2 separate regions of the Homo sapiens genome follow, and region 1 is reported to be linked to region 2. Evidence: microRNA targets listed by miRTarBase, many of them from high-throughput screens and not tested one by one. Region 2 holds a microRNA gene; the other region holds the end of a gene's coding sequence.

What was found. The annotated mature microRNA hsa-miR-1323 reads UCAAAACUGAGGGGCAUUUUCU and lies in region 2 at 2,937-2,958, opposite strand. An mRNA with a match to its seed (bases 2 to 7 or 8) in the 3' UTR can be bound and repressed. Matches are read on the target gene's strand: a 7mer-m8 pairs with bases 2 to 8, a 7mer-A1 pairs with bases 2 to 7 and ends in A, and an 8mer does both.
Region 1: the mRNA of CDH1 is a reported target of hsa-miR-1323. Seed matches in the 3' UTR shown: 8mer at 2,686-2,693.

What each region holds. Positions count from the first base shown.
Region 1 is chr16:68,832,718-68,837,106 of GRCh38, forward strand. It overlaps CDH1 (cadherin 1), which reads left to right. Exons shown (of 16, transcript NM_004360.5): 16 at 573-2,820. The coding sequence ends at 782. Among named protein-coding and RNA genes, the nearest start is that of TANGO6, 8.6 kb to the right of the region's middle.
Region 2 is chr19:53,670,547-53,674,935 of GRCh38, reverse strand. MIR1323 (microRNA 1323) reads right to left here and starts at 2,968; the gene lies at 2,896-2,968. It overlaps MIR498 (microRNA 498), which reads right to left and starts at 739; the gene lies at 616-739. The region is part of intron 2 of LOC107985342 (a long non-coding RNA gene); the gene reads right to left.

The DNA of each region.
Region 1 (4,389 bases), not on the chromosome of region 2:
GCTGAGGCAGGAGAATCGCTTGAACCTGGGAGGCAGATGTTGCAGTGAGCCAAAATCACACCATTGCACTCCAGCCTGTGTGACAAGAGTGAAACCCTGTCTCTAAAAAAAAAGAAAAAGAAAAAAAATACAAGTCCTTCCTTAGTTCCCACACCCCCACTCCCCAGATTTAACTGTTAAGCATTTGGCATTTATCCTTCCAGGCCTTTCTGGGTGGAAATGCAGCCTGCATGCACCAGTATGCAAAGCTTCCAGCTCTGCCCATCCCAGCTGGTGGTGTGGCAGCCCCACTCTGATCTATGGGGACTCCATCCTGACTGGTTGGTGCTTGCATCTCTCCTGCCTACATATAACTCACCATTTCACTTTCTCTTTCCATCAACAACATATCCTGTGCTTCTGCATCCTTCCATGACAGTGTGTATAAATGTACGTTGTTGGTGTTCACTGCTCCGTGGTGTGCCACAAGTCTGGGTGCATTGTCGTACCTTACATATTGCTAGACTTCTTGCCCCAGATGACAGGTGTGCCCTTCCTTTCACTAAAAGATGCTTTTGTCCCTTCTTCTTTAGAATCTGAAAGCGGCTGATACTGACCCCACAGCCCCGCCTTATGATTCTCTGCTCGTGTTTGACTATGAAGGAAGCGGTTCCGAAGCTGCTAGTCTGAGCTCCCTGAACTCCTCAGAGTCAGACAAAGACCAGGACTATGACTACTTGAACGAATGGGGCAATCGCTTCAAGAAGCTGGCTGACATGTACGGAGGCGGCGAGGACGACTAGGGGACTCGAGAGAGGCGGGCCCCAGACCCATGTGCTGGGAAATGCAGAAATCACGTTGCTGGTGGTTTTTCAGCTCCCTTCCCTTGAGATGAGTTTCTGGGGAAAAAAAAGAGACTGGTTAGTGATGCAGTTAGTATAGCTTTATACTCTCTCCACTTTATAGCTCTAATAAGTTTGTGTTAGAAAAGTTTCGACTTATTTCTTAAAGCTTTTTTTTTTTTCCCATCACTCTTTACATGGTGGTGATGTCCAAAAGATACCCAAATTTTAATATTCCAGAAGAACAACTTTAGCATCAGAAGGTTCACCCAGCACCTTGCAGATTTTCTTAAGGAATTTTGTCTCACTTTTAAAAAGAAGGGGAGAAGTCAGCTACTCTAGTTCTGTTGTTTTGTGTATATAATTTTTTAAAAAAAATTTGTGTGCTTCTGCTCATTACTACACTGGTGTGTCCCTCTGCCTTTTTTTTTTTTTTAAGACAGGGTCTCATTCTATCGGCCAGGCTGGAGTGCAGTGGTGCAATCACAGCTCACTGCAGCCTTGTCCTCCCAGGCTCAAGCTATCCTTGCACCTCAGCCTCCCAAGTAGCTGGGACCACAGGCATGCACCACTACGCATGACTAATTTTTTAAATATTTGAGACGGGGTCTCCCTGTGTTACCCAGGCTGGTCTCAAACTCCTGGGCTCAAGTGATCCTCCCATCTTGGCCTCCCAGAGTATTGGGATTACAGACATGAGCCACTGCACCTGCCCAGCTCCCCAACTCCCTGCCATTTTTTAAGAGACAGTTTCGCTCCATCGCCCAGGCCTGGGATGCAGTGATGTGATCATAGCTCACTGTAACCTCAAACTCTGGGGCTCAAGCAGTTCTCCCACCAGCCTCCTTTTTATTTTTTTGTACAGATGGGGTCTTGCTATGTTGCCCAAGCTGGTCTTAAACTCCTGGCCTCAAGCAATCCTTCTGCCTTGGCCCCCCAAAGTGCTGGGATTGTGGGCATGAGCTGCTGTGCCCAGCCTCCATGTTTTAATATCAACTCTCACTCCTGAATTCAGTTGCTTTGCCCAAGATAGGAGTTCTCTGATGCAGAAATTATTGGGCTCTTTTAGGGTAAGAAGTTTGTGTCTTTGTCTGGCCACATCTTGACTAGGTATTGTCTACTCTGAAGACCTTTAATGGCTTCCCTCTTTCATCTCCTGAGTATGTAACTTGCAATGGGCAGCTATCCAGTGACTTGTTCTGAGTAAGTGTGTTCATTAATGTTTATTTAGCTCTGAAGCAAGAGTGATATACTCCAGGACTTAGAATAGTGCCTAAAGTGCTGCAGCCAAAGACAGAGCGGAACTATGAAAAGTGGGCTTGGAGATGGCAGGAGAGCTTGTCATTGAGCCTGGCAATTTAGCAAACTGATGCTGAGGATGATTGAGGTGGGTCTACCTCATCTCTGAAAATTCTGGAAGGAATGGAGGAGTCTCAACATGTGTTTCTGACACAAGATCCGTGGTTTGTACTCAAAGCCCAGAATCCCCAAGTGCCTGCTTTTGATGATGTCTACAGAAAATGCTGGCTGAGCTGAACACATTTGCCCAATTCCAGGTGTGCACAGAAAACCGAGAATATTCAAAATTCCAAATTTTTTTCTTAGGAGCAAGAAGAAAATGTGGCCCTAAAGGGGGTTAGTTGAGGGGTAGGGGGTAGTGAGGATCTTGATTTGGATCTCTTTTTATTTAAATGTGAATTTCAACTTTTGACAATCAAAGAAAAGACTTTTGTTGAAATAGCTTTACTGTTTCTCAAGTGTTTTGGAGAAAAAAATCAACCCTGCAATCACTTTTTGGAATTGTCTTGATTTTTCGGCAGTTCAAGCTATATCGAATATAGTTCTGTGTAGAGAATGTCACTGTAGTTTTGAGTGTATACATGTGTGGGTGCTGATAATTGTGTATTTTCTTTGGGGGTGGAAAAGGAAAACAATTCAAGCTGAGAAAAGTATTCTCAAAGATGCATTTTTATAAATTTTATTAAACAATTTTGTTAAACCATTGTCAAATTTGTTTTATTTGATTCCACCACATTTCCAGTCAAGAGAAAAGATGCATGGAGATGGCCTCAGTCAAAACGTGGAGAAAGAGGCCGGGCGCGGTGGCTCATGCCTGTAATCTCAGCACTTCGGGAGGCCGAGGCAGGTAGATCACTTGAGCTCAGGAGTTTGAGACCAGCCTGGGCAACGTAGTGAAACCCTGTCTCCACAAAAACACAAAAATTAGCTGGGCGTGGTGGCGCGCGCCTGTAGTCCCAGCTACTCGAGAGGCTGAGACATGAGAATCACTTGAACTCAGGAGGCAGAGGTTGCAGTGAGCCGAGGTTGCGCCACTGCACTTCAGCCTAGGTGACAGAGGAGACTCCATCTCAAAAAAATAAAAAAATTTTTAAAAAACTTCATGCTGAAGTGACTTCTCCAGAAGTTTCTATCATTCTACTGGATGAACATGGGAGAAACTACATTCACATGGTAACTTTATTTGAACAGTATCCATCCATGTGGCATGTGATGAAACCAATAAAATTCCCATGTCCACGGGAGACTGTGTGGGCCAAGCTGAAGGACGGGACAGAGCAAAGTTTCAAACGATGTTCTCGGGGTCAGCAAGTGAGTACAGGCCAGTGGTTCTCTGCTGGGGAAGAATGTAGCCCCCTCCTCCATGTGACATTTTGCAATTTCTGGAGTACCTGGGGAGGTGGTCTTGTCACCACATCAAGGCCAGGGGTGCTGCTAAACATCCCTGCACGGGACAGTTCCTCACAACAAAGAATTATCCAGCACAAAATGTCAGCCACTGTTAAGAAACCCTGGTGTAAGCCTAAAACTTTTCTCTGTTGAAGGGGTATGACTTTTTTCTTTGGGTAATTTTTTATTGTAAAATACAACATAAAATTTATGATTTTAGCCCTTTTGTTAAGTTTTCAGACAGGGTCTCACTCTGTCACCCGGGCTGGAGTGCAGTGGCACAATCACGGCTCGCTGCAGCCTCAATCTCCCAGTCACAAATGATCCTCCTCTCTCAGCCTCCCTAGTAGCTGGGACTACAGGTGTTGCACCACTACGCCCAGCTAATTTTAAAAATTGTTTTGTAGAGACAGGGATCTTGCTATGATGCACAGGCTGGTCTTGAACTCCTGGGCTCAAGTGATCTGCCCTCCTTGGCCTCCCAAAGTACTGGGATTACAGGAGTGAGCCACCACGTTGGCCTCATTGTAGCCATTTTTAAGTATACAGTTCAATGACATTAAGTATATTCAAATTGTGTTGCAACCATCACCACTATCTTCAGAACTTTTTCATCATCCCAGACAAACTCTGTACCCATTTATTTTCAACTGTTTTTAAGTGTACAATTCAGTGGTATTAAGTACATTCAAAATATTGTATAACCATCAGCTCTGGTGTTAGAACTTTTTCATCATTCCAAATAAATTTTGTATCTAGTGGGCAATAACTCTCCATTCCTGCCTCTACCCATCCCCTCCTAATCACTATTCTACTTTCCATGTATGTAGACTCCTTTAATCATCCTTTTGCATCTGGCTTTTTTTTTTTTTTTTTTTTT
Region 2 (4,389 bases):
TGAGGCAGGAAAATCGCTTGAACCCGGGAGGCGGAGGTTGCAGTGAGCTGAGATTCATGCCACTGTACTCCAGCTAGGGCAACAAGAGTGAAACTCCATCTCAAAAAAAAGAAAAAAAAAAAAAAATATATATATATATATATATATACACATTGTCATGCACACAAATATTCTCCAGGATAGACCACAGGCTAGGCCATAAAACCTCAACAGAATTTAAAGAGAAATATACAAGTATGAGTAGGGAGTGGTGGCTGACACCTGTAATTCCAGCACTTTGGGAGGCTGAGGCAGGAGGATGCTTGAGCCCCGGAGGTTGAGAGGCTGCAGTGAGCTGTGAACATGACACTGCACACCAGTCTAGGCAAGAGTGAGACCGCATCTCTATTTGTATTAAATAAGCTATATTAAAAAAAAATTACACTCCTGAAGACCTTTCAGGCAGGGAAATTCTCAGGCAATTTACTCACTGTAGCTTCATGAAATTACCAAGACGCTTATGACTATTTCCGTTAAAATGAATTTTCTAAGTACATTTCCTGGATCAACAGCATCCAGAAGTAAACACAGGAATCTGATTTCATGCTTGTTTAAAAAACTATTAACATTGCCATCAACTTCCTTAGACGATTGCTCTCAAACTGTGAGCTTCAAGCTCTGGAGGTGCTTTTCATCCAGTTATAGAAAAACGCCCCCTGGCTTGAAATCACAGCCTGAGCTTCACTTCCCAAGGAGGGTTTGGGGCTTGAGCATTCTCAGGGTCCATCTGAAATCAGAGTGCAAACAAAAGGCATCCCAGAGCAGTCCACTCTCAATAATAAGCAGAATTAGGCAGAAGTAAGTAGAAGTTTCAAATAAGTTTGCAAACCAACTCAATGGACATCTACTGAACCCTCCCCAACATTCAAATGCACACATAGCATAGGACGGGACAGACGTTATGAGACACATAATACACGAGGCATACAATGGAGAAGGACCAAAGTACATTATGTTCAATCACCACCATAAAATGCAATTAGAAATCATTGTTGAAGACAGGCACGGTGGCTCACGCCTCTTATCCCAGCACTTTGCGAGGCGGAGGTGGGCAGACCACCTGAGGTCAGGAGTTCGAGACCAGCCTGGCCAACATGGTGAAACCCTGTCTCTACTAAAAATACAAAAATTAGCTGGGTGTAGTGGCGGGCGCCTGTAATCCCAGCTACTGGGGATGCTGAGGCAGGAGAATTGCTTGAACCCGGGAGGCAGAGGTCGCAGTGAGGCAAGATCACACTACTGCACTACAGCATGGGTGACAGAGAGAGACTCCATCTCAAAAAAAAAAAACTCTCAAATGGTCAGGCAGGATGGCTCAAGCCTGTAGTCCCAGCACTTTGGAAGGTGGAGGCAGGAGGATTGCTTGAGTCCAGGAGTTTGAGACCAACCTGGGCAACATAGTGAGACCCTGTCTAAATACATAGAGAGATAGGCAGGAAACATGGTGAAACTCCATTTCTACTAAAAATACAAAAAATTGGCCAGGGGCAGTGACTCAAGCCTGTAATCCCAGCACTTTGGGAGGCCGAGGCAGGCAGATCACGAGATCAGGAGACCGAGACCACCCTGGCTAACACAGTGAAACCCCGTCTCTACTAAAAATACAAAAAAATTAGCTGGGCGTGGTGGCGGGCACCTGTAGTCCCAGCTAGTCGGGAGGCTGAGGCAGGAGAATGGCATGAATCAAGGAGGCGGAGCTTGCAGTGATCCGAGATCACACCACTGCACTCCAGCCTGGGCAACAGAGCAAGACTCCATCTCAAAAAATAAAAAAAATAAAAAAATAAAAAAAAATTAGCCGGGCATGGTGGTGCACACCTGTAATCCCAGCTACTTGGGAGGCTGAGGCAGGAGAATCACTTGAACCCAGGAGGCAGAGGTTGCAGTGAGCCGAGATTGTGCCACTGCACTCCAGTTTAGGCAACAAGAGCGAAACCCTGTCTCAAAAAAAAAAAAAGAAAGAAAAAAAGAAAATGCTTAGACATTTACATTGAGACTAAGAAAAATGGCTCCCCAGATCCCAACCCAGGTCTATGGCACCAAACAAAATCTGTGGGTGGGCCCCAACAAGCTGCTTCAGCCAAGCTTCTGGGTTTTTGTCATAAATTTAAGAACCTCTGGGAATGGGGGCACGTGCATCTGTAATACCAGCTACTTGGAGGCTGAGGCAGGATGATCACTTGAGCCCAGGAGGTTGAGACTGCAGTGAGCTATAGTCGCACCATTGTACTCAAGGCTGGAAGACAGAACCCCTGGTCCATGATATCCTGGGTAGAAACCAGGACATCTACTAAATAGATGGACTGGTATGGGGGGCAGAAGGGAAAGGAAACCTTCACAGGAAGCACTTTTTTTTTTTTTTGAGTCTCGCTCTGTCACCCAGGTTGCAGTACAGTGCCATTATCTTGGCTCACTGCAACCTCTGCCTCCTGGGTTCAAGCGATGCTCCTGTCTGCACCTCCCAAGTAGCTGGGATTACAGGCACATGCCACCATGTCCAGCTAATTTTTGTATTTTTAGTAGAGACAGGGTTTCAAGTGCCTCGCCTGCCTCCCAAAGTGCTGGGACTACAGGCGCGAGCCACCCCACCCGCCTTAGGAAGCACATACTAAGGAGCCAAGTTAACTGCAATTCCTGGGGTCTCAGAACAATGTTGCATAACAGACATTTTTGCTTTGCATTAGAGGGATTTTTGCCTAGGAGAGCGCTTAGAAAATGGAATGCATTCAACGTGAGAAAGCTGATTGCAGTGGAGAGAAAAAGAAACAATAGAAAAGCAAAGGCCAGTCCACTGGGTGCATCCATGTGGTGCAATGCGATGGGGGACTGGGGATGGGTTATGATGAGGATTCACAATTGACATCCCCAAAACTGGGTGCACTTTCCTTTCAAACCACAGAAAATGCCCCTCAGTTTTGAGGACCTCAGTCTGAATGTCATGTCTGACTTCAAACTCTTCCTACGTGGTTAACTCACACTAGGGTTCGCTGTCCTCACACTGCAGATGGAGGACGTTCACACAGCACTCATGCAGAAGCTCCCAGCCAGATCTTGAAAAAAAATAACCTCAAAGAATCCTCAGGCTGCCCAGGGAGTTGCTAGGAAAAGGCAGACACACCAGCATTTACACAAATTCAGTTACATCACTAGTGGTAGGTTTCACATAAAAACCTTTGATTTATGAGAAGGCTATGCACATGTTACACATCCAGTCAGAACCAATCATGCACTCTAATCATACACTTTAATTTCAAATTTTTTTTTTTTTTTGAGACAGAGTTTCACTCTTGTTGCCCAGGCTGGAGTGCAGCGGTGCGATCTCAGCTCACTGCAACCTCTGCACCCCATGTTCAAGCCATTCTCCTCGTCTACTCAGTCTCCTGAGTAGCTGGGACTTCAGGGGCCCGCCACTATGCCAGGCTAATTTTTGTATTTTTAGTGGAGATGGGGTTTCACCATATTGGCCAGGCTGCTCTCGAACTCCTGACCTTGTGATCCGCCCGCCTCAGCCTCCCAAAGTGCTAGAATTACAGGCAGGAGCCACGGCACCCGGCCGTTTTTGGTTTTAAATTTCTCAGCATTACCTGTGAAAGAATCCAAGTGTACATTTCCACAGTCCTGTCTATGAACACAGAAGAAGGAGTGATTGGCAGCAAACTGATGCTTCAATGCCATGATAGGAGCAAGTGGGCTTCAAAACTATCCTAATACCTGTCCTTTTTTTTTTTGAGACAGAGTCTCGCTCTGTCGCCCAGGGTGAAGTGCAGTGGCACGATCTCGGCTCACTACAAGCTCCGCCTCCTGGGTTCATGCCATTCTCCTGCCTCAGCCTCCCCAGCAGCTGGGACTACAGGCGCCTGCCACCACGCCCGGCTAATTTTTTTGTATTTTTTTAGTAGAGACGGGGTTTCACCGTGTTAGCCAGGATGATCCACCCGCCTCAGCCTCCCAAAGTGCTGGGATTACAGGCGTGAGCCACCACGCCCGACCAATATCTGTCTTCTTGATGCAAATCCAAGTTTAGCATCCTCATTTGGGCATTCATTTGTTAATCTATTCTGCAGTCTTCTGATCTACCTCTTATGCTACTCTTCTTTGCAATTTTACTGTAAGGCAAGAAATTCCTAGTCTTCAGTAACCTGGAGTTAAGATACCAGTCCCCATCAGTTACAATCAAGGACTCACCTCAGCACTGAAAATGCCTGGGTCCCACACGTCACAGGCAATGTGCCAGTATGTTCTTATCAGACTCCAGAAAGCACTCCCAGATTGCATGTCACCAAGGAGACAGTGATCACAAGCCCCAGGGAAAACCTGCAAGGTAGCATAGAACCCATGTCCCTCCACAGG